3 separate regions of the Homo sapiens genome follow, and regions 2 and 3 are each linked to region 1. Evidence: fine-mapped expression QTL. A gene starts in region 1. Each other region holds a variant in brackets. All regions are shown on one strand. Distances are between the middles of the regions. Region 1 holds the start of AJAP1 (adherens junctions associated protein 1). Region 2 overlaps AJAP1 (adherens junctions associated protein 1). Region 3 overlaps AJAP1 (adherens junctions associated protein 1).

Region 1 (8,173 bases):
TGTACCGATGTTGCCCAAAGATTTGAGCTGCCTCCTAAATTTGCAGTTTAGTCAAGCATGATTGTCCCCGAGGAGTAGCACAGCCGCTGACACTAGATAGATTCCAGTTGCAATCAATTTAGTAGCAGCAGCTGGAAATCGGCGCGAGCCAGGATTCACCCGGAGCGCAATGTTTGTGGACTGCGCGTTTGACTTCATCCGCTAAAGCTGGGCTGCACAGCCCCAGCTGCCTGGGGACTCTACAGCGAGGATGGTGACAGCCAAGCCAATGGATCCCTGCCATGAGGCCCAGACATGGTACAGCGCGCACTGAGAGGGCTTGGGGAACTGTGAATTATGTCAACACACACACCCAGGGCCTCCCAAACAAAAGGGGCCCCAGAACCTTGGAGCGGGAGAACAGATGGGATGGCCGCAGGGACATGGGCTGGGAATGAGCTCGTGGCACTCTGCTAGGGATCACAGTCCTGAGCGCAACCCAGCAAACGTATTAGGTGGACGCTCGGAGCCCCTGAGGAAGCCACAGCATCTGAGGTCTGCAGCCTGGGAAGCAACTCACAACCAGGAAGCCAATTCCAAACTCTGGGCTGCTTGCTGAGTACGCGCCCCCTCCACGGGTGAGCTCTGAGCTGCTTGCTGAATACGCGCCTCCTCCACGGGTGAGCTCTGGCAGGGCTTGTCAAGCCACTGGGTCTCCTTCCGTGGCTCCCTCTCTCTCAGCTGATGGAAAGTATCTTTGGAGCTCTGCTACAACTATTAAATGCCACCGCAAAAGACACAAAAGCTGCTCAATAAGTCTCAATCTGCTTCTCCCTCTTGGGGGGAAAAGAAAAAAAAAAAGCTCCACATACAGCTCAGTTCCAACACAGACGTAAATAACCAAGCCCAGACTTCGTCTCTGGGGCCGGAACTAAGAAAGCCCACCCCACCCCCACCCCCACCCCCTGCCCAGCAAGTTACACTGCACCTCTCCCATGGTGGAGCAAGCCAGGCCTTCTGCCACCCCAGCTGGAGGCTCAGTGTCTACCTGTCCTAACCAGGCTCCAAGCTTGGCAGCAAGACGCCCAGTGCTCACCTAGGGAGCCGCGGAGTGGCTTGCAAGCAAAGGTGAAGGGCTGTCTTGAAAGAAAAAGTGCATTTCCAGACCTTGAACTTGCAACCCTTTGGCTCAGAGTCCCCAGGTGCCCATTGTGATGCAAAACCACCCAGACCCTCTGGGTACAGGCCTCCTTCTCTGGCCAGGAGACAGCAGTAACAAGACAGAGCTCTCCCATCAGGATCCCAAATAGGTGACAGCTCGTCCTTAAAGGCACACTTACAGAAAATCTCCTGTGCTGACATCGAGGGGGGAAAAACGAAAGGTCAAACTTCAAAAGAACCAACAGAACTATTTCCTAAAGCAAAATCCCAAGATCCGGCTTGAGGATGCTTGAGAGGAACTGTTTTAGTAAATTTCAAATCAAAAGAGAGGCTTCTTTCCAAGATATTTGCTCTTCTCTCCCTTTATCAAAATGTACTCATCTTTTAATCTAGCAACTTAGCAATAAAAAAAAATGTCTGTTCAAATAAGTTGCCATCAGGAATCAAGTGGCAGCTCAGGAAGCAGGTCGGAGCTGAAGACCAGCCACTGGCCAGTGTGGGGACCCGTCTGGTCATTCACAAAGCCTTGGAAGGTCTTGCTGAGACCTGGGACAGTCCGGGGCAGAGCAGGGGATGGCAGGCCTCCAGGGCACCTGGATCAGGGTCATTCCTGCAAAGCTGTCCTCGCTCCATTTTGCCAACATCCCACAACGGTCCAAGCCTAAACCTTATCTAGCCCAAGCACACTTATCGATTCACGCCCGACCAATATCCCACACCCAACACAATCGGCTCCATGATTAACCTTTGAAGCCCACAGCAAGATCGGCCACTGAGAGAAGGGATGCTAATAATAACATCTGACAATGTTCACTAGATGTGTTACACAGTATTCACCTCTGGGAGCAGAATCGGCTCATAAATCAAGGGTCGCTAGAAAACACTTGGCGTCCCAGTCCCCTTCCGATTTCTCAAAATCAGGACACGCACTAGATCCTCCCTCCCTTCGCCTCACTCCCCCCGCAGCTTCATCCCTGAGTGGGGGCGGCTCAAGCAGCGGGCTAACAACTACTGGCCTTTTCGTCCCCAACGCGGGAGCGCAGTGCATCCCAGTGGACAAACTCGAGAACCGCACGCTGCTCTCCGCCTCCACCTCTGTCCTCCCCGCTCGCGGTTCCAACCCGGGACCCAAATGCACGAGCTCGGTGAATGCCCCGGCAGGAGGGCGAGGGCTCAGAGGCAGCCTGCCCAGCAAAAACGACAGCTGTGCTCTGGTGGGCCCTGGGCCACCCCAGGCAGAAGCCAGAGAAGCCCGAGAACCCCGGCGGGCTGGCAAAGTTTGCCGAGAAGGGTCTTTCTGGACACCCCCACCACGGGCTCTAGGCTCGAACCCCCTCTTCCATCTGGCCCTGGAGTCCCAGACACAGACAAGCCCCGGGCGCGCCGGCGGGCGTATGTGCGTGTGTGTTTACAGCGGGGTGGCCGCCGGAGCTCCCCAAGAACCCCAGCTCTCCCGCCCCAGCTGCCCGCCAGCTGTGAGCGCCCGTCGGGCCCGGAGGTCACCCGCAAACAGCTGGGTCGGCAGCTGGGAGCCTGGGAGGCCCCTGCTCAGCCCCGGGGCCCCGAGAAAGGAGAAGGGGGAGCGGAGTGGCTGTTTGGCTGTGGTTTCCTCCAACTCCGCCTGCGAAGCTCTCGCTGGGAGCCCGGAGCTTTAGCTTTCCCCGGCAGCCCCGGCCCCCGCGCCCGCCGCGCCCAGCGGCCGGCGCCTCGCCCCGGGCCCCGGGGAGGAGGCGCGCCGGGGCAGCCGGCCAGGACACTGCGCTGCTGGCTCCTAGAGCTGCGGGCGCGCCTGGCCGGCCCCACTTCCCGGGTTGCTGGGGCGGGCGCCGCTGCCCCGACCCCGGACGCGCGGAACCCTGGAGACCCGGCCGCTCCCCGCCAGGGCCGCGGTGCTGCTCCAGGCTCCGGGCGGGCGCCCCTTTCCGGCTACCGGTGCACCCCGTTGCCCGCTTGCGGGAAGCGAAGAGGGGTCCCTTGATTTGCAACATAGAGGAAAGCGCCGCTTCCGCCCAGCCTGGCACCCACGCGCCCACACGCACCCGGCGCCGGCCGGGTCGCTCACCTGAGTCCTAAAAGCTGTTGAATCCACATGGTCACGTTTCGGGGAGCGGGGCCTCAGACCTGGCTCGCCCAGGCCATCTGCGCGGCGCCCGCGCCCGCTCGCTTCCGTCCCGCGGCGCCGGTCTCCGGCTCTCGGTCCGCCGCCTCCCGCCGCCCGCCGGCCGCGGGGCGCACAGCGAGTCAGAGCGCGGCCGCGCGGGGCTCCATGCCGGCCGGCGCGCCGCCGCCGTTGGGGCGCATGGCTCAGGCTGGGCGGCCCGCGGGGGCGCACATCCTCCGGCCGGGGCGCGGGGCTCGCGGCCCCCTCCGCCGGCGGCACAGCGAAGGCGGCAGCGAGGCGGGGCGTGTTCCGGCGCTGTCGCGGCGCAGCAAAGGGCTGGGGAGCCGCGGCTTCGCCCTCCGGGGCGGCGAGGAGGGAGGCCGGCGGCGCTGCCGCTCACGGTGCGTGTCTCCCGGCGCGCGGCTCTTGCCTCCAGCCGGAGCTCCGCGCCGATGGGGCGGCGCTGCTTAGGGTTTGGGGTGACGCGACGCGGACGGACGCGAGTCCCCTCCGCGCTGCCGGGTCGGGGGGCTCTGCCAGAGGCTCCGCCGCCGATCGGCGCCACTCAAGTTGCCCGGGGGCTCCGTCTGAGCGCTCGCTCTGCAGACGGCCGCGGCCCGGAGACTGGCAGGAGGCGGGCACGAGAGGCGCGCGGGGCGAGGGCGCCGTGGAGCGCGGGGCGTGGGGACGCGCGGCGGCGGCGCCGCGCGGAGGAGGCGCGCGGGGATCCCGGGGCCCCGCCGCCCGCGCCCACCGCGCCCGCCGCAGAGCCGCCCGCGCTGCTCAGCCGCCTCCCTCCTCGCGTCTGCCTCTCCGCGCGCTCGCCCCCGCCTCCCGGAGCCGGTCCCAACTCCGCCCGCCCGGCCCGGCTCACGTCACCCGCCTTCCCCGCCCCTCGAACGGGAGCTCGAGCCCCTGGCCTGGCCCCGGCTCCTGCTCGCCGCCCCACCTTGCGGGGGCCGGGGTCGCCGCGGGTGGTGGGGGGCGCTGTGCCCAGCAGGGGCGACAGCGCAGGCGGGGCCTCCTGCAGCCCCCTTCCCCATCCCCGGTCGCGTCCCGGTCCCCACCTTGCGAAAGGCTCGAGAGAGGCCGCAGGCTAGGATTGGACCGCCGGGCGCCGCCGGATGGTGTTGCCAGGGTAACCGGATGGCACGCGAAGCCGTTCGAGGTTCCGACCCGGTTACGGGGGCGCCCAGTGGACCCGGAGAGCTACTTTGGGGAGGGGGCGGCCCCGAAGAAGGACTGGGTGGGGGCGCATGGAGCGGGGGCTGCGCGAAAAGTTTCCTGGGGCGGAGCTGAGCCACGCGGGCCGCGCAGGAGCGTCTGTCCGAGGGTCGCCTACGAGGGACTCCTCTGCTCGGCTGCGCGGGCTTCTGCGTTGATGAAGTCACCGCGTTCCGGGTCGGAGCTTCGGCGCTTCTGCCCCGAACCCAGCGAAGCCCGGTCCTATGCCCCCAATTACCCAACGGTCCCTCATCGCCCAGCGCAGCTGCTGCCTGGCCAGGCCCTTGCTCCGGAGGAGTCACTGGAAAGTTCCAGGGAATCTGGGCCTCCCGGACTCTCCACCGGCGTTTCACTGCTCCCTTCCCATGCCAGGACTCCTCTGTGCCTACCTGGTTAGTCTGTATTTGCAAAAAACAAACAAAAACAACAACAAAAAACAAATGGGGGGCACTTAAAGGAGGACAGACGCTGGGCGGGGACCTTTCACTGAGAGAAGTGACATGGGGCGGAATCCTCTGCAGACCCGCTGACGCCTTGAGAAACCACGGCAAAACCCTGCTTTTAATCCTCCACAGGCTGAGGGCAGTGCAGAATCCGGGCCTTGGAAAGGACACTGGTGCCACCCTTCACTGGGGAAAGGTGCAAGGGGCGGGGGATATACCATGCCGAGCCTTCGCTCTGTGCTCTGTGCAGGTGCTTGACCCAGGCCAGCTCTGGAATCGCCCCAGGCCATGTGAGAGCCGTGGGGGGTGAGAGGGGCGGGAAGCACTTCACAGGTGAGGCCTCCCTGGGAGGGGCAGCCAGTGAGGGGGTGGAAGGGCAGAGCCAGGAGGACCATGGCTTGGGGCTCAGTCTCCCAGGCGAACCATAGCTTGGGGCTTAAGTCCCCCAAGCAGCCCTTTCACCCCCAGGCCTCCAGGATCTTTGCCAACGGTCTTGAGGAGCCAGGCACAGGATTGGACTCTGCCCGGGCAGGAGGATGAAGACAGTGACTTCCCCACCAAGACTCCCGGCAGAGGGCCAGAGGCAGGGAAGTGTGGTGGCAGGAGGGCCAGCCTTGCCGTGGCTGGACCAGGGGCCAGCGCTTGCTAACTCGGGGTCCTGGCCGAGTTGTGTGGCCTCTCCGACCCTCGGTCTCCTCATCTGTAAGATGGGTCCCACAGCCCCTCCCCGGGGAGGTGTTTGCAGGGCTCCATGAGAAGGCCTTACACACACTGTGGCTATGGTGATCTGTGAGCCGGTCAGAGGACCCGAGAGGCAGCAGGGTGACTCAGCAGTTTCCCTGCCGGGCCGCCCCTGGGTCATCGTCCCCTAGAGCCTCTCCCTGAGGGGTGTGAGGGAGCGGATCCCATTAAGAGGCGAAGGAGGCAGGGAGGTCCTGGAACCAGCGGGGCCTATGGCGGCCGGCGGGGAAGGAGGCGCCGGCAGTGCTGCCACCTAGCGGTGTGAGGAGGCGGTGCTGCACCAGGGAGGCCCTTCCTGCAACCGGAGTGGGCCTGGAAGGGGCCGGCTTCGCACACTAGGAGCCAGCAGGGCAGGGAGGGGCTCCGGACCGGACCGTGTCGGCTCCAGGAACCCCTTGGGCAGCCTTGTGGACACCTGCTGACCTCTCTCAGAATGGCTTCTAAGTGCATAGATGAAAAAGCCCAGGATTATTAGGAAACCAATTCTATGCAAATGCATTATCAAAAGAGTAATAAAAACAAATTTCTGATATAGCCGTATATATTATTTATTAATACACTTAGTAAGCAATTGACAGATCCTAAATTACGTTCCTTTTGAAGTCCAGATATGCAGCAATAATATCCTGAGGTAACTGCAGCCATGGCAGTGTGATATGGAAATGCCAGTGCTTTCTATGTTTGACGGTCACAGGCACTGAGCTCTGCCACCGACATTGATAATGAAAGGAAATGCCAAGTCTCAGTTAGGGTTAAATAAAGATGCCAGTTTTCCCCCATACGAGTTGAAAGACCCTTTGAATTCTATCCAAGTACCCTGGGAATCTCTGGACAAAGAAAATAGTAGAAGGAAGTGTTTTCTGACAACCGAGATGGGAACAAGCCCTGCAGAAGTCTCCAGGCGAAGTCAGAGCCTTAAGACTACAGCTGCTGCCCCGGGTGAGTGAGGGCTTCTTCAGTCTATGGGGACGGAGGATGCCCTCTGCCCTCACCCAGGCTTAAAATTAGGATTTGGGACCAGGGTACACTGATTTCCTTTTTCTCTAGGGTAACTCAGGTCTGCCTCTCTCCAAAAAGAGCAATCCACCTATTATTATTATTATTATTATTATTATTATTATTATTGAGATGGAGTCTCACTCTGTCACCTGGGCTGGAGTGCAATGGCATGATCTCAGCTCACTGCAACCTCTGCCTCCCAGGTTCTCCTGTCTCAGCCTCCTGTCTCAGCCTCCCGAGTACCTGGGATTACAGGTGTGCACCACCACGCCCGGCTAATTTTTGTATTTTTAATAGAGACAAGGTTTCACCATGTTGGTCAGGCTGGTCTCGAACTCCTGACCTCAGGTTATCCACCCACCTTGGCCTCCCAAAGTGCTGGGATTGTAGGCCTGAACCACCGCGCCCAGCTTATTATTATTATTTCGATGACAAAATCATTGTCTTTTTTTTTTTTTACAGACTGTAAAACGACAAAACCTTAACTTGCATTTCAGCATTTCTAGAACTGGTTTTCTATACATTGATGGCTCTCATATTTCTAACTGGTTCATTTTTCTTCCCTTGGGGATTGGGAAGCTGTGTGTATGTCACTCCCACCCAACACACACACACACACGCGTGTGCGCGCGCACACACACACACACACGCCTCCCAGCTTCGGCGATACAAAAGGGAACTGTTCAGATGTTCATGCTGTGGAAAGTTCTTCCGGTCACCCTGCTAATTCTGGCCCTTTCTCCCCGCTGGGGGAAGTCCACAGCCTGGAACCCTGGGGAACCCCTGCGGTCTCCTCACCTAGTCCCCTCCCCTATTTTCCCAACAAAGGAGCCAGCAGGCCCCTGCAGGAGGTCCTCTTTGAAGCTCTCTGAGGCCATTTATCTAATGGCCTTCACAGACTTGACTATTTTTAAAACCCATCCAAAGCCAAATTGAGCTGCCATTGTTCATTTTTCTCCCAAGGAGGTAAATGTGTCTTAACCATGACATTTGATTAAGTAGCTAAGTTTGTGATTTTAAATGGAAGGGAAAATGCTGATTAAAATTATTATAAGTTTCTTGAAAGCATTCACAGGAGTGTCTTCCCTGACTCTCCTATCTTCCTGGCTACCCCCCTCCCAGTAAAACTTGCAGGAAGCTCATGGTTGTCGGGGGCAGGGGGAGTGACGCAAAGTCGCTTTTCCTTCTCAGGGAGGTTATATGCTGGAGATTTGGGGTTTCCTCCCCCTGGCACCTGAGCTGTTTCCTGGGTGAGGCTGCACACAGCTGCACTACACGCATAGCTGAGCGCAAGGCAGAGACCAAGCCTTGGGGCAGAGGTGGGAGCCAAGAAGCTGTACTCCCACCCACAAAATGACTCACAAGACAATCATCCTGCAGCCCAGCACTGGCCGGCAAGAGAAAATGCCAGGTCTGAACTGCCTGTGAAAGTGTACCCATGCATCAGAGAGAGGAAGACGGGATTCCTTGGCTTGCTCTGAGCAAGTGATAGCCTCCGGGTACAGATGGAAAGAGGGCCACCTAA
Region 2 (8,173 bases), 82 kb before region 1:
TGTTAGCCAGGATGGTCTCGATCTCCTGACCTTGTGATCTGCCCGCCTCGGCCTCCCAAAGTGCTGGGATGACAGGCGTGAGCCACCGTGCCCGGCCAGCCACTTTTTAAGCGTACAGTTTGGCAGCATTAAGCACATTTACATTGTCAGGAAATCACCACCACCCTCCAACTCCAGAACTTTTTCATTTTCCCAAAACTGAAACTCTGTCCCCATCAACACTCACTCCCCATCCCCCTCCCCCAGGCCCTGGCACCCACCATTTGACTTTCTGTCTCTATGCATTTGGTGACTCCAGGGACCTCATATGAGTAGAATCTGACAGAGTTTGTCCTTTTGTGGCCGGTTTATTTCGCTTAGCAGAATGTCCTCAAGGTTCAGCCACATTGTATCATATGCTGTAATTTCCTTTGGTTTTAAGGCTGAGGGATATTTCATTGTGTGGATGGACCACATTTTGTTTATCTGCTCATCCATAGATGGACACCTGGGAGGTGTGACTTCGAATATTGTAAATAACGCTGCTGTGAACATGGGTATGCGCACATCTCTCTGAGACTCCGCTTTAAATTCTTTTAGATACACCCCGTCAGGTCCTTTCTCCTTCCAAGATGAGAGGTGTCGTGAGCTGGACGGGGAGTGGCCACCATGGTGGGAAGCCATCCCGGAAGCCCTCTCAGTAGATGATGGGTAAGGCCTGGGGTGGGCTCTGCCCCTTATCAGACACTCTGATGCCAAAGGCACAAGAAGGAACCTCAGACTTTAGGAGGGATGCAGAAGAACCAAACACAATTCAACGTTGAAGTGAGGGCCGCCACAACCATGCTGTGTGGTGAAGAACAGAAATCACAAGTACAAAAGAAAACAGAAAAAAAAACAACAACCAAAAACAGAACCTGCTGCCTCCTCCCCCTCTTCAGATGGTTTTTTCTCCTTTTAAAAATATGCTCCAAGGGTCATTTCTGTGCAGTGAGAGAACACGAAAAATACCAACAGCTCGTGTGAAATACCAGCCAAGATGACTAAGAAAAGATGAAATGCAAATTGATCTCTGCCTCTTGGGAACTGATTTAAGAATCTGTTCAAAATCAAATTAACTTTTTGACTTATTTCCCCAGAAAGCTCAGAAGGTGGCAAGGAGACCTGGAGTTAACACGAGGGTAGGGGGTGGACTGCATTCCAAATGCATTGCCAACAGTGGGCTTCCCAGGCCTGTCGCATGACCATTGCTGCCGACAGACGGGAGATGTCTGTGCTTGGACGGACCCACTTTCCAAGGCCGGCAGACCCCAAAGCCTGCCGATACTTGCACTGGGCAAAGTGGGAATTATTACGCAGGTTTGCAGCATTGTGAGCAAAGTGGGATGCTGTGTGTGAGATCGTCTTTCCCCGCCTGCAGTTTACTGTGGGGTTGTGGAAGGGCACCCCCAGGACGAGAAGACTCTCCCACATGTGTTTGAGTGGGACATCCACCAGTTTTCTGCGTCATTTAGCTCCAGGTACCAGGAGTCTCACCAAGAATTCCGGTGCCCATGGAAAATGCAATCTCCCGGGAGAGAGGAGAAGCAGTGGCCCTGCCTCCCCCACATCTCAATTCCCAACATGAACTTGGTGTCCAAACCCCCAGATGTGCCCCCACGCCCTTCCCACCTCCTTCTCCTCCTAAGTGGTCACCTTGCCCTGCTGCCAGGGCCCCAGGTCTTCCAGCGGTTCTCTCCTCTGAGTTCTCCTGCTCCTATGGGGCCTCCCTTCATGGAAGAGCCAAGTCAAGTGGTGGCCTCCGCCCACATTTTGTCCATGCATGTCCTAGGCACTTTCATTTCCCCCTGGAGTGGAATCCCTAGCAGGGCTCCCCGCTTCCCACAGCCTCTCCTACATCCAGCAGCCCAGGGAACCCTTCCAGAACAGAGCTCAGATCTTCCTGCTTCCCAGCTCAAACCCTCCAGCGGCTTCTCCTAGTCTCTGCACACCCCCGCGGTGCTGCCATGGCCTGGGGGGCCTGCCCTGGCTCCCACCCCCTCTCCTTACTCTTCCCTTCTGCTCTGTGCTAATCCTTCCCACCAAATCTGCCTGCCAGTGGCTCTCGCCAACAACCTCCACTCCTGCCCTAGGGCTGGCTTCCCTCCCGCCTAGAGTGCTCTCTCTTAGCTCCAGACCAGCTACCCCCTAATCACCCTCCCCTTGTTCAGAGAGAGGCCCCTCACGCATGCTAACTCCCCAGTCAATCCACATTCTTCTTGCAGAGACTCTTATGCTATCTTGTGTATTGACTCAGTCTGCTCAACATGGTTGACAATTACGCATTTATTTGAGTGAATTTCCAGACAATCACCCTTGTGGGCCTGCTAGCCCCATGAGAGCAGGGCCCCTGTTGTGTTGATCATGCCTCATCATGCATGGCCGTGGCCTGCCATGTGGCTGGGGGCTGCATGCTTGAAGGACGCCTGGGCTTTGGGTCCCATTACTCTTCTGAAACATTAGCAAGACAAGAAGTGTAACATTTGGAATGAGTAAAATTTGTACTCAGTACCAGGTAAAATCAAGCCTGGGAAGCTGTTTCCCCCAGGCAGGTGCTTTGCACACCTTTGGAGTTTAACCAGCTCTTGTGAAACTGAGTTCTGGGCTTCTTCAAAATCCACATGGAACCATGGGTGCAAAAGGCAGCTGGTTTTGGTTTTGGTTTTGGTTTTGGTTTTTTTGAAAGAGGGTCTCGCTCTGTCGCCCAGGCTGGAGTGCAGTAGTGCAATCATGGTTCACGGCAGCCTCAATCTTCTGGGCTCAAGCGATCCACCTGCCTCAGCCTCTCGAGTAGCTGGGACCACAGGTGCATGCACCACTACATCCAGCTAATATTTTAAATAATTATTTTTGTAGAAAACGGGGTCTCACTCTGTTGCCCAGGCTAGTCTTGATTCCTGGGCTAAAGTGATTCTCCCACCTAGGCCTCCTAAAGTGCTGGGATTATAACTGTGAACCACTGCACTTGGCCTAGAATTTCTTTAAAACCCACAACAAGGGCCTCAGGAGTCTGGGACCTGGGCACCCTGGCCCTGCCTATGCAGAGGCCTAAGGAAAGGATGAGCTCGCAGATCTCGGGGGGCTTCCGTCTCGGGGGGGCTCCCGTCTCTGCTTGCACTTGCACTGCGTCCTGTTGCTGCACCAGGAAATCCAACACGAGCCCCAGAAAAAAAAATCTCACCCCACAGGTCCCCATCCTTGCCGGGTAATCAGTGCTATGGCATTTCCCTGAGAGAGGTGAGGGGCCGAGGGGTGGGTGGTGACGGGGGCTTGTCCAGGGACTCGGCAGAGCCAGGGGGCAGGCTCAGGCTCAGGCTCAGGCTCATGCTTTTTCCCGACTCTCTGCTCTGCCCCAGCCTCCTCCCAGCCTGGGTTTGGTGAGAACCTTCCCATCCCAGGGGTGCCCATCCACAGCCCCATAGTAAACTGCAGGCAGGGAAAGGACGCTCTCACACAGCATCCCACTTTGCTCGCGATGCTGCAAACAGGCGTAATAATTCCCACTTTGCCCAATGCAAGTGTGCCAACTCCAGTACATTCAGAGAGTTGCTCTAGTTCATTCAACCATTTTTCTCTAGATGATGGCTGGATTAAGCGGGGCCCTTGCTTGACCTGGGCATGAAAATAAGCCCCCGCAGGGAAGAATTCTCAGGCCTCAATCCACCCCCAGTAGTCAGCCCTGGAGACCCATGTCTGAGTCCTAGGGCTGCAGGTCCATGTAGAAGCCCTCTTTCCAACCAGCCCACCCAAGCTGTGCACTCCAAGTTTACCAGCGGCCCCCGCACGTTCTCCACAGATACACTGGGATAACTAGGGGTTTGAGCTACAAGGCCTTTTCTTTATTCTTTAATTTTCATTTGCTTATTCAATAAATACATATTGAACTCCCTACGTGTGCAAATTGCTCTGCCGTGTGCTATACAGAGGATAAAAAGAATCAAAAAGCACATCAAGGCTCGGGCCTGAAGGAGCTTGCAGGTTCACTGGGGAGTCAGGGCCTCACTTTTAATCCTATTTTGCAGTTATTTATACATATAAATACAACCAGGAAGGCAGCATGAACATTTGAGGAAGGAAGAGATTATCGCTGGCCACAGAGGATTAGAGGAAGATGTGTGGGAGGGGAAGTACTTGTGGCTGGTGTTTTTGGAGCAGAGTGAGCTGGGAGGGGGTAAGATGTGACTGGCAGAGCCAAGACCGTGGGAAAGGGAGGGCTGCGCACAGCGCAGCGGGCAACAGGAGGCCAAGGGAGAAGGCGGTCACAGCCTGGAAAAGAGGTGAGAGAGCTTGAACTTTCTTGGGGTAGGCAGTGGGGAGCCAATGACAGTTCTTGAGCAGGCGAGGGGCAACATCAGAGCTGTGGTTTAGGAGAACTGATGGGGCAACTATGTGAAAACTATTTCTGTCAACGGTCTCAGG[G/C]ACACCTCTGCAGCCTTTACCATGTGCCAGGGCACATCCCAAGCCCTTTACAAACATTAACTTTTTCTCCTGACAACCCTGGGAGGTTGGCATTTTTCTTACCCCTGTTTTCCAAATGAGGAAAGTAAGGCGCAGGTAAGGCAGCTTGCCACTGTAGCAAGTAGGGAGCTGATCTGGGGCCTTAAGGAACCTCAGCGCCAACCCTCTTCCTCTAAGCTCTGCTCCCCTCAATCTGACCAGCAATGGCAAAGGCTGAAGATCACCGTGGAGACCCTCAGGAGGCGGGCCCCAGGGCTGAGCTGCAGTGACACAGGGAAGGGGAGCCAGCTCCGAGGCCAGAGGCAGGGGTAACAGGGGCTGTGCCCCATTTTCAGGAAGATGGGACCCCGGAGGAGGCGGCAGCTTGTCGAGGGGCTTACTGAGGCTCAGATGGCTGCACTGCATGAGTCAAGCCAGGGTAGGGCTTCAGGGAGCAGAGGAGCAGGGAGGAGCTCACCTCACACCTCACACAGCAGGCAGAGGTGCCCACTGTACAGCAGGCAGCCTGGGAGGAGAGACCTCCGTGTGCAGCCTCCTGAATGTCCCTGGCTATTCAGTGGGCTGTCTTATCTTTTTAAACCTTTCTGAGCTCTTAGGCCAGTGCCACAGGCAGAATAAAGCTGCCCACCCGGTGCAGTGGGTGCTGAGCCTGCATACCAGGCTCCTTTCCTGCAAAATTGGATGGGCGAGACATTCAACCAGGAGAGTCCCAAACCTGGGGCCCAAATTGGTCCCCTCTCCCAATAGGCGTTCTCACCCCACTGATGCACATCGCACCCTCCCTCCCACACGCTCCAGGCTGGAATTCCAGGGATGACTTCTCTCCCCATCTCCCCTATGTGAGTGTCACGGAAGAAAAGACCTGCTGTGACCAGCTTTTGAAGTGACTTCAGCCCAGTATGCTTTTCTTGTCTTCTTCTAGCAGCCAGGAGGCCTGGTCCCACCATGCCTTGCGTGCTGTGGCAGGCTTTTGTAAGGGTGTGCTCCTGCCGCTGGTGCGGAGCTCACCCAGGTGTAGAAGAGAAGCCCCTCTACCCGGCCCTCTATCACCCTCAAGGGTCGCCAAGCACGCGGAGCTCATACGTGTAAGCAAAGCAGGACGGCTCCCAGGGAAGTTGAGGTGAAGACGGCTGCTGCAGGCTGAGCTCCATCACGCGGCTCAGCTTGCAGGCGATGGACGGAGGAGTCGAGAAACAACATTGCCATCTGTGCCGGTGGACAGAAAGCCAGATGGAGGCTGAGTGCTCGGGGAAGAGGAAACGCCACTGTTTCGGGCCTCGGAAGCAGAAGATGCTTCCCGGGCCTTAGAAACCTTGTCCGGGGGAAGGTGAGAGCCTTGGCCCTGCCACCATCACTGACCCCTCTTGGGTGCTGCCCTTCTCCTTCCTTCCAAGAACACCCGAAAGACAGATCATGCATCATATTCAGCATCGCCCACAGGTGCCACTCCAGCCCCATCCAGTGCAGTCCGAGCTCCTGCAGTGACGAGGCCTGACATTCATTCATGGGCAGACCTGGACAGACTCCTTAATCCCTGTCTCCACTTCCTACTTTGTAAAATACCATACGCCCAAGGGATGGTGGAGAAGACTGAAGGAGATACAGTCAGATGAGTGCAGGCTGTCAACACACCATCCCTGGAACCTAGGTTTGAATCCTGACTCCACCCCCTTCAGGCTGTGTGACCTCAGGCAAGTCACTTAACCTCTCGGGGCCTCTGCCTCTGCTGATTTAAGATCAGAGGAATGCCTTCTTCCCAGGACGTGTGTCCTGTGGGCCTTATGAGATTTAATTCAAGTCAGCTGTCAGAACCTGGCTCCCAGTATGGACGCAGCGCTGTTAATAGTGAGGCAGGAGGCTCAGTAGGGCAGGCCCTTCCTATTCCGGGGCTCAGCTGAGGCACTCCTTTCATCTAAGAAGGAGCATCTGAGCGGGTGCCTCTCTTCCTCCACACAGAACAAGTGCATGGGTTCAGGGCCCTGGCAGGTCTGTATTTGGATTTTAATTGTCATGATTGAAGGGGCCTTTTGCAAATCGCTCTCGCTTTTCCTGGGCTGAGCCAAGTCAATACTCGGTACGTGATCGCTTACAAAAGCCGCTAATTGGAGCTCCGGCAAGGGCCCTGCTCGCGACGCACACACCTCGCGTGAACCGCTCCATTCAGCTCCCCCCGCCCCCACCTCCTTTGATCCACATCTCATAAGGGCATCTTGCCCTAGAATTATGAGCACAGAAATCAGAACAAGAATCTTCTTTGCGTTCTATTTCTGGCTCTGACACAGACGACGGCGTGTGGGCAGCTCACAATGCCAGAATTTTCTCTGGTCTCTGGGAAATAGCACAAGTCACAGTGGCCTTCTCCTATCCCTGCCCACAAGGAGAACAAGGGGAGGGGTGGGCTGTCCTGGACCAGGTCAGAGATGGGTCAGGATGAACCGAATCCTCCCAAGGCCGGCCCGCTGGGATTTCCCGCGCTCGGAGCAGGATCTGTGTTCCACATCCCATTCTTCCAGAACAAGGAGGGCGGGCCTCTGAGGACAGGAAGACGGCTGTGCAATTGGACTTGCTCCCCACTGGACTGCATGCCATGTGAGGACAGGGGTTGAGTTGATTTGGCTGCCTGTGAAGGGTCCCACTCCCAGCACAGCCCTGGGCACACGAGATACTTTGGTCAGCTGAATGAATGAATGAATGAATGAATGGTTGAACAGGTGAACAAGCGAATGAGATTCTGTTGGGCAGCTTCTCGCTGTCCTGTGACCTGCTTCTGTTGGGTTCTAAACCCAGGCTTTGGAAGTGATGACTCTTGGGGCCATCCAGCCTTGGGGAAGCACAGACCCACGGCTCCCCGTGACACTGACGTCTTGGGTATGCAGATCATCTGAAGGCGGCATTGCATTTTAAAAATCACGTGAAAACCCTGAGCCAAGCCCTGGGGGTTCTGCTACCTTCCCAGCCCTAATTCTAAGAGTAGAAGGGGGTCTGGGGTGGGGGCTGCCCACTTTGTTGGAGGCGGGGCAGGAAATCCCACAAAATTTTCTTGAGGCAAAAATAAGCATTTTAACAGCTTCTTAATTTTTCTCAATCCAAACAGATTCTGAAATGCCCTGCTGGGCAAAGAAGAGTCCAGAAATCCTATTTTCATTCATTTGTGGGGAATTTGGACCCCAAGAGGCCATAGCCAGAAGTCCAAGCTAAGATGTCTATTTGGAGACGCAGTTCCTCCAAGGATCTCCCAAGAGCGTCAGGGGAAAGAAAAGAAACAGCTCCAATTTTCGAAGCAGACTGTAACTTACTAAGCCTTCTCTCACCTCTCTGGTCTGGAGAACTGACTGAGGCCTGGTGTGGAAGATCATCTCCATTGTATTAAGGAGCCCACTGAGGCTCTGGACTCTGTGACTCACCCCAGGTCTCGCGGAAGGGCCAGGGGTTCACCCTCACTCCCTCACTCCTGCGTTGCTGTGAAGCCGCTCTCACCTGCCTGCACAGGCACAGTGGGGCCTGGCACAAGGGACACTCTCATTGACAGTAAGTTACAGCACTGAGAGGCTGTCTGTAGGCAGAGTGCAATTCTGGGGGCCCCCGAAGGAGCCCAAGTTGGGCCTCTGGGGCTCAGAGAACTGAGGGACAGCTGGCAGGCCATGTGAGGGAGGGGGCCCAAGGTGGGAGGGCAAAGCCACAGGGCAGGGTAGCTTGG
Region 3 (8,173 bases), 56 kb before region 1:
AACCACCTGTTCCCTTCCCTGTGGCCCAGCATTGCGTTCCAGAATTAACATTTCTCTGCATTAGAAACAAACACACATATTTTCCTCTTTTTAGATTTGTTTTGCTAAACAAATTAATCTAGCACCAGATTATATTATGAAGAACCATAAATCGCTTCCAAGATAAGCATCTGTCGAGATGGATTAGCAACATCCAATGCACTGTGAATTAATTTGCTAAGCCTACAACGCTGTCCCGGGTGTTTAACTTTAGTAATAACAAATGTAATTTGGAATAAATGGGAACTTGTTTCCTCATCCATGTCTATATAGTAAGTGACGTATACAGAGGAGGTGACAGTAAGGGAGAGTAGCAAGAAATCCTACTATGATGATGGCTGCTGAGTTTACTGAGGTAAAAATGAACACTCTGTAAACTGCTAGCAGGCGCCTGACAGTGCAGGATGAGCTGCAGACCCCGCATGTCCGTGGATTCCCAAAAGAGGCTGCATGGGAGGAAGCCGATGCAGGACCTCCAGAGTCTCTTCCTCCGGAGCCTCTTCCTCCAGAGCCTCTCCCAAGCCCACAGCCTCCATCTCTGGGCATGGCCCTCAGCATGCGCAGGGAGCCCAGGCTGTGCTTCCATAGAGACATTGCTCTCTAGGGAAGAGGAGCTCAGAAAAAAAACCGCAGGTTCTCTTGTCCAGGTGAAGGAAGAAAGTAGGTCACCGGCTGAAGGACAAAAGCCACCCACCCCATGAAAACCTGTCCAAGGACTGCCCGGTGCCTGCCTGCCCAAGATGAGGAGGAACCAGGGCCAGGACGCAGTCTAGTGAGGACGCAGAGGGCCTGGATGCCATGCCGGCCGCCTGCACATGAGCTCTGAAGAGCAGTTCTCTTCCCTCCCCTTGATTCTGCAGAGGCCTGGGTGGGGCCTACCGAGCCCACAAGCTGGAGGTTGTGGAAAGCAAGCTGTGAGGAGGCCACAGGGCGCCCCCGCCCACTTTGTACTGACGCCCTAAAATCTGCATCCGATTTTAAAGTTAGCAAATGTTGCTGTTTGTCTAGAATGTGTATGCACAGATCTAGGTTGTGAACTTCTGAGCCAACCTGGCACATCGGGCTGTGCCTGTTAACAGAGGCAGAGAAAACTGGAGGGAGGTGAGGGTGACGGGGTGCCCAGGGCTCTGCGCTCTCCCCGCAGGCCTGCTGTGAAGCCTGGTGACATCAGTGCAGGCTACCAGTTCAGGGACAAGCCCTGGCTTGGGAGATTTCCAAGGGCTACTCCTTTCAAAGCAAATGGAGGACAGCGTATAGGAGGAAAATAAAAAACAACAAAACTGCACAGAAGGAGATATTCCAAAGCCAGTGAACTGTGTGTGTCCACAGGCAGCTAGGATAACAGCAGCAGAAGAACCAAAGCCCTTTGTTCTGATCTCCGTCCTCCAAACACCCTCCTGACACATCCCCAGGGAGCCGAAAGGTGCCACCTGAATCACTGTCTGCGAAGGTTCTGTTAACACCGCAGGAAGTTCTTCCTTTTACCCAGCCTCGGCCTTTCTTGCTATTTAAGGCCATTCCTAATCCTCTACCGAGGTCAAGTTGGCAGGCACCCTGCCCCCGTCCATGCCCCCGTCCATGGGTCCCATACCCTTGAAGGCTTTTGAAGACTCTGGGGCGGGGGGATCCTTAATTGTATCACGAGACGGGCAAGCATCTTGCTCAAGGGCCGGCCCCAGAGACAAAATTCTCTGATTCTGGAAGGCGTGGCTGTGTGTGGTGGATTCCACCGGTCTGTAACAGGGCTGCAGCACCTGGTGGATTCAGCTGGTCCCTAACAGAGGCACAAGGGGTGCAGCGCCCACTTCTAGGTACATACTAAAAAGGGAAACTCTCCCTTCTCACGCCCCCTTCCTCTAAGGCACAGCCTGTATTTGCCAGTCTACAGGCATGTGCAAGCTCATGGACACATCACGCCTGCATCTCCTGGAGCCTCCACACATAGCATCACCCAGGGACATCTAAGCATCTCTCCCGAGTCACGCTCCCAGCCCTCAACCCCAAGCAAACCCAAACCAGAAGAGAGATGGCTGTACCTGAGGCCTCCCCCAGAATCCTTGGGGGCTGGGTGACTTCCCCGTTGTTGCTGGGACTGGTGGAAGGCTCCGTTGTGCTAACCCCACCTGGGATCCTTCTCCGGGGATCCAAGGACTCGGTGAACCCCTTAGTCTGCAGCGTCATGGGGGTGGCCGTGGTGGTGGTGGTGGTGGTGGCGGCCACAGTTGTCTTCCGTGTTTGTAGGATGGAGACCGTGGTGGGGCCGTAAACGCCCGGAAATGTGTTGGACTCCAGGGCCTCCTCGTCCCCCGTGGGCCCCCAGGCGATGAACTCAGTCTCTGTGGTGGGCCGGCTGCCTCTGGAGTCGAAGCTGCTGAGACCGTCCCCCTGCAGGTGCCTCTTGCCCCTCCTCAGGAGGGCCTGCTGCTCCGGGGCCCCACCGGCCACCGCGGAGGACGAGGACGAGGACGAAGAGGCGAGGGAAGGGCTGGATTTGGCAGCAGCTGGGGGCTTGGCCAGTCCTGCCTTGGGCACGAGGGCGGCCGCCTGGTCCCGGGGCCTGTGGGCCCGTCTGGCTCGAGGCATCTGCATCTGCCCGTGGATCCGCTCCACTCGGGGCGGCCGGGGGCTCCACACCGGGGCCGGGACCCGCGCTGGCTGTCCACTCCTAAAACTCCACAGCCGGGGCGGCCGGGGCGGCGACCGCGGCAGGAGCCAGAACTCCGGCCCCGGGCCCAGGGCCTCACAGGCGGGCAGGTCCACGGCGAGCTGAAACATGGCTATCAGTATCCAGGCATGGCTTCCGAGGGGGCGGCCCGGCCAGCGGATGGACATGGAGCTGTGCGGGGGGGAAAGGAGAGAAGAGCGGTCAGTGGAAGCCCAGGAGGGGGACTGGGCCCCGGGGCCCTCTCTCTCCACCCCGCGCTGTGACAAGGACGCTCTCTTCTTCTGGAAAGAGCTCCTCCTAACTTCAAAAGGGAATCCGAAACCCTTCCTTCCTTTCCTTCAAAGGCTCACTCACGTGCAAGAACAGCGCGCGCTGCGAGGGTGCGGGGAGCTGCTTCCCGGCACCGCGGGGCTGAGGCGCCTGCCAGGCACAGAGCCGGCCGGTCGCCGAATAGTCCATTTCACGCGAGCGAAAACCGAGCCTCAGAAACCCCCAGCCTTTCAGGGCAGCCTCGACAAGATAACCTGAAAAGACCTGTGAGTCCCTCCTTCCTTTTGCCCATCACACGACGAGAGGACGTAAGTGAGAGGATGGCAGCAGCGGACACCGGCCTCCACCTGGGACCCCAGGGCCAGGCGCTTTCCTCTACATAGCCCAGGCCACCCCCCGCCCACTGGGGAAGCGCCTCTCCCCAGGTCTAGGAGGAGCGGAGGTTTCAAGCTTGAAACCTCGCAGCGTGAGCGCAGGCGCTTCCCAGCACCTACACCTGCCAGGCACTTGCACTTTGCAAACACCAGCCGCTCCCGCTGCCCCTCACCCAGAGCCCGGCATGCATATCGTAAACAGGCATCGCTTTAAATGCTCTGCATGGGAAGGCTTCTTACTTCTGGCCTCCTCTGGATCGTACTCAGGGAAATGAGATCTGCTCCGGATAAACCTAAAGTTTATTGACGCGAAGTGTCTGTTCTGTTGACATTTCCGCTCCCCCTGTTTATCTGCAGTGCCGGTGCCCTTTGAAACCCTGTTATCCACCTCCTCAGCTCCCCGGAGGGCTGCAGAAAGGGCAAATCCTGCGCAACCCTGAGGAGG[G/A]CGGGGCTGCCTCTCCACGCAGCGGGGCTGCAGGGGAGAAGTCAGGGCTGGCGGGGCGGCCCCTCCCCAGTTCACATGGAGCGGCTTTGTCACCAGGTCTGGGGTCGCCTCTGGACCAGTGGACTCTCTGGTGTCACATGAAAACCAGGGCGCGGCAGAGAGCCACGTGGAAGGGCTCAGAGGAGCCAGGCCCACGCTCCCTCTTCCACCAGCACAGATAATTGAAGACTGATTATAGGTGTCATTCAAAGTCAGTTCTCGTCACCAGCCTCACGTCTGAAAGTTAAAATGAATCCCAAAACTGTAATGACTGAAGCGGGTGGGGGGCGCGAGGGTGTTCAGGTGCCAAGCGCCAGCCTGACGCCGCCCAAAGCCAGGCCTGGAAAGCAGGTTGGGTAGAGTTTTTCTTTATAAGGCGGTGAGTGACTTCACAAAGGAAGGAAGCTGTGTGTGTCATTGTAATGCGTGCACGCAAGTGTGTGAGTGTGTGCGTGTAGGCAAGCACACGTATGTGAGTGTGTACGTGTGTGACTGGGTGTGAGTGTGTGCGTGTGGGTCAAGCTGTGTGAGTGTGCCAGTGTGAGAGTGAGCCAGCATACATGAGTGTAAAGATGCATCTGGGGGTGTGTCCACGAGTGTGAGAGACTGTGCGTGAGTGAGGGCCAGGGTGTCTGTGTGTATTTGGTGCGTGTGTGAGAGTGTACTGTTGTGTGACTGTGTCCATGTGTGTCAGCATAGAAGTGTGTGAGTGCATCTATGCTCGTGTGTGTCAGTGTGTATGAGTGTATCTGTGCGTTCCTGTGTGAGTGTGTCTGTGTGAGAGTATCTGTGTGTGTATTTGTGTGTGCAACTGTATCTGTGTGTCCCTGTGTGAGCATGCGAGTGTATCTGTGAGTGTCTGTGTGAGAGACTCTATGTGTGAGTGTGTCTGTGTGTGTCTGTGTAGGAGAGTTTAGTTGTAGCTGTGTGTGAACGCATCCCTGGGGGCACGCCCTCTGTTCAGTACTGAGACCCTTGTGTCTGGTGCTGACTCTCCCAGATATCTGGGGAACAGATGGCCCCCCAGTCATCAGGATGGTGAGAGAGAAACTCTTGCTAATGAGTGCTAATTACCAAAAAGGACTAATCCCCAAACAATAAGGCTTCAGTTTTTCAATCAGAATAGAAGTGCTTTGCTGCAGAAATGAGGACCTCCACATTATGCTAATCCTCAGCACGGTGTTTCTGCTGGTGTGCAATTTCTCTGCACTAGCAGCCAAGCTCGGGGCAGGGACCAGGGCCACTGTCACCACAAGGACGAATTTAGGTTAGGGTGAAATTCCCCCATATACACACTAAGGTAGCTCCTCTGTGGCTGCAGGTGACCCAGTGAGGATGGGAGCTGGTTTAGAATCTCTAATTCTCCCATGACCTGCAGAGCTGGGTGGGAGTCTAGCCCCAGGAAGATGAGATGCTGCTCTGAGCAGGTGCAGGGTCTCACCAGGCCCCACCAAGCCCCTTCAGGCTCCACCAGGCCTCACCAGACTCTGCCATGGTCTTCCAGGCCTCACCAGACCTCACCAGGCCTCACCAGGCCCCACCACACTCCACCAAGCTCACCAGGCCTTACCAGACTGCACCAGACTCCAACAGTCCCCACTATACTCCACCAGGCCCTGATTAGACCCCACCAGGCTTCACCAGGCCCCACTACACTCCACCAGGCCCCACCGGCCCCCATCAGGCCCCACCGGCCCCCACCAGGCCCCACCAGCCCCCACCAGCCCCCACCAGGCAGGCTGAATCAAAAGCCATGACAAGCAAACCTGCCTGCCATCAGTACTTAGAGAAATATTGCCCCAGGAAATTAAAACCATAGCACCTAAGCCCGTGCCTGCCTCGCTGGCATAACTTCACACACAGGATATTTCTGTGATTTTTCACCAATCATGGCTGTAATTGGTTACTATAGAAACCCCCTCATTTCTAAGACACCCAGCTGTTATGCAGAAAAACCAACCAATTGCAACAGTGGCAGGGAGAGGTCGATTTGTTTTTCCTCTTCAAGTCTGGTTTCTTCCTTTTTAAAGTGATTGATTTGTTCAGAGAGGAAAAAAAAGAGGGCAGGTGGGCAACCAGGACAGAGGCCCCAGCCCACTCCCAGCAGCCAAGAAATGTGGGGGGCAGGGGGAAAGCCCCTCCCATAGGAAGACGTGTAGGGGCCACTGCTCATTTCTGTGCAAGGCCAAGGGCCCCAGGCTCTGCATTGCCACCAAGACGGCTGAGCTTGGTGTGCTGCCCGGACCTGGTCCTGAGACTCTTGGGGACCCCTTGGTGAGAGGCTGCATCTCTGCAGCAGGAGGACTTGGCTCTATCTCCAAGGACCAGTGAGCAGTACAAACAATCTCTGTCCTCATCCCTTGGGCGGCTCTGAGATGAGGCAGAGCCTGGGAATACTCTTCTCACTGATCCTGCTCAGCCTGGGGCTTGGCCCTGAGCACCTCTCATTTCATGATGAACAGATTTCGGGAGGGCCTCACCCCATAGGGCATCCATGGCACTGTCAGACATGCACCAAGATGGCAGGCGACCCCACACCTCCTCTGGAGGCAGGCCCTGTGGCATGGCTGCCGACCACAGCACCAACCATCAGGAGGCGAGGCTGTGGGGCAGGCAGAAGTGGCACCAGCTCCCCTGAAACTCAAGCATCCACAGGCCCCTTAAGAACATACCGCCCGGCCAGACATGGTGGCTCACGCCTGTAATCCCAGCACTTTGGGAGGCCGAGGTGGGAGGATCACGAGGTCAAGGGATCGAGACCATCCTGCACAACATGGTGAAACCCTGTCTCTACTAAAAATACAAAAATTAGCCAGGTGTGGTGGCGTACACCTGTAGTCCCAGCTACTCGGGAGGCTGAGGCAGGAGAATCGCTTGAACCCAGGAGGCGGAGGTTGCAGTGAGCCGAGATCATGCCACTGCACTCCAGGCTGGAGATGGAGTGAGACTGCGTCTCAAAAAAAAAAAACAAAAAAAAAACGTACCGCCCACATCACACCCACAGAGAGAGCTACAAGCAGAAAGACAGAGAACATGAAGTGCTGGCGAGGACACGAGGAGATGAGAGACCTAGTATGCTGTTGGTGGGAATGAAAACCAGAATGCCTCTGGGCAAAACAGTTTGGCAATTCCTTGGAACCCTAAAGACAGAGTTCCAGGGACCCTGCTGCCCCTCTCTTAGGCACAGACATCTGTCCACATGAAAACCTGCACTGGGAGGCCCAGGGCCACACTCACAACTCACAACAGTCAAAGCTGACTCAGCTCACGTGCCCGTCAGCTGAGGAATGGATAAAGGGGATCTGGCATAATGTTACAATGGAGTATCGTTCAGCCTTTAAAAGGAAGGCAGGATTACTTGATCTATGCTACAATGTGGAAGCACCTTGAAAACCCTGAGCAGGGAAAGAAGCCAGGCACTCAAGGCTACACGGTGCCCGGTTCCGTTTATAGGAAATGCACAGAGTGACCAAATCCACAGAGACAGAAAGATGAGCAATTGCCCAAGGCTTGGGGAAGGGGTAATGGGGTAGGGGGTTTCTTTATGGGGTGACGAAATATTCTGGAATTGTGTGTGGGGGTAGCTGCACAACTCTATGCCTATACAAAACCCACTAAACTGTACATTTGTAATAGGTGAGTTTTGTGCAATGTATATCCCAATACAAATCAAAAGGAACATGCTAGAGAATGGGGTGTGTGCAAGGGTTGTGGGGACAATGTGGAGTGCATGGCGTGGCACCCTAATCCTGGCCCTGGCGGATGGGTGGAAGGCAGAGCGGCCCCCAGAGCTGCAGGCACATGGGCAGGAGGAAGCCATGGAGACTTTGGGTTCATCCACCCAGTCCTCACTGGGACACCCTGAACGTGAGACAGGGTCCCTGCCTGAGCACCTGAGGACCACATCCACACCCTTTGAGAAGAGGCAGGGACAGCTCCCTCTCAGCAGCCTCGAGCCCATGATTTTCAAAGAAAGAATAAACTCCTTGCCACCACCCCCTGCTCCCCAGCTGCTTCCAAATGGGGAACAACTGCTCCGTCTCACTTTATTTTCTAGTTTGTGGCTTTCTTGCTTCTCTTCCTTTTAAATTTTTATTGAAATCTTTTTTCCCGAAGAACAGTTTAATAAGATTTGGTGAATTGAGATTCAATTCACTACCTTCTGTATATTTTCTTCACAGAAGAAAATCACTGTCAATTAAGGGGCCAAAGACATCTCTTCCACTTAAAGTTGCACCTTTCCCCGAGCCGGGAGTGTGCGGCGTGAGCCTCCTGGGAGCAGCTGGTGTCTGCCTTGTGGGAGCACTGGTGCAGTGAGAAGCAGGCCAGGCCCTGGAATTG

Evidence for each region.
Region 2: its variant is fine-mapped to the expression of AJAP1 in whole blood (TOPMed, PIP above 0.99).
Region 3: its variant is fine-mapped to the expression of AJAP1 in whole blood (TOPMed, PIP above 0.99).

Annotation. Positions count from the first base shown.
Region 1 is chr1:4,650,484-4,658,656 of GRCh38, reverse strand. AJAP1 (adherens junctions associated protein 1) reads right to left here and starts at 4,048. Exons shown (of 6, transcript NM_018836.4): 1 at 3,203-4,048. The coding sequence starts at 3,231. RefSeq lists an enhancer at 6,008-6,057.
Region 2 is chr1:4,732,428-4,740,600 of GRCh38, reverse strand. All of the region lies in intron 2 of AJAP1 (adherens junctions associated protein 1), which reads right to left. Among named protein-coding and RNA genes, the nearest start is that of AJAP1, 82 kb to the right of the region's middle. RefSeq lists an enhancer at 6,222-6,722. The variant G/C (reference allele first, on the strand shown) is at 4,438.
Region 3 is chr1:4,706,602-4,714,774 of GRCh38, reverse strand. AJAP1 (adherens junctions associated protein 1) reads right to left here. Exons shown (of 6, transcript NM_018836.4): 2 at 2,076-2,875. Among named protein-coding and RNA genes, the nearest start is that of AJAP1, 56 kb to the right of the region's middle. RefSeq lists enhancers at 3,168-3,784, 3,785-4,403, 4,854-5,766. The variant G/A (reference allele first, on the strand shown) is at 3,794.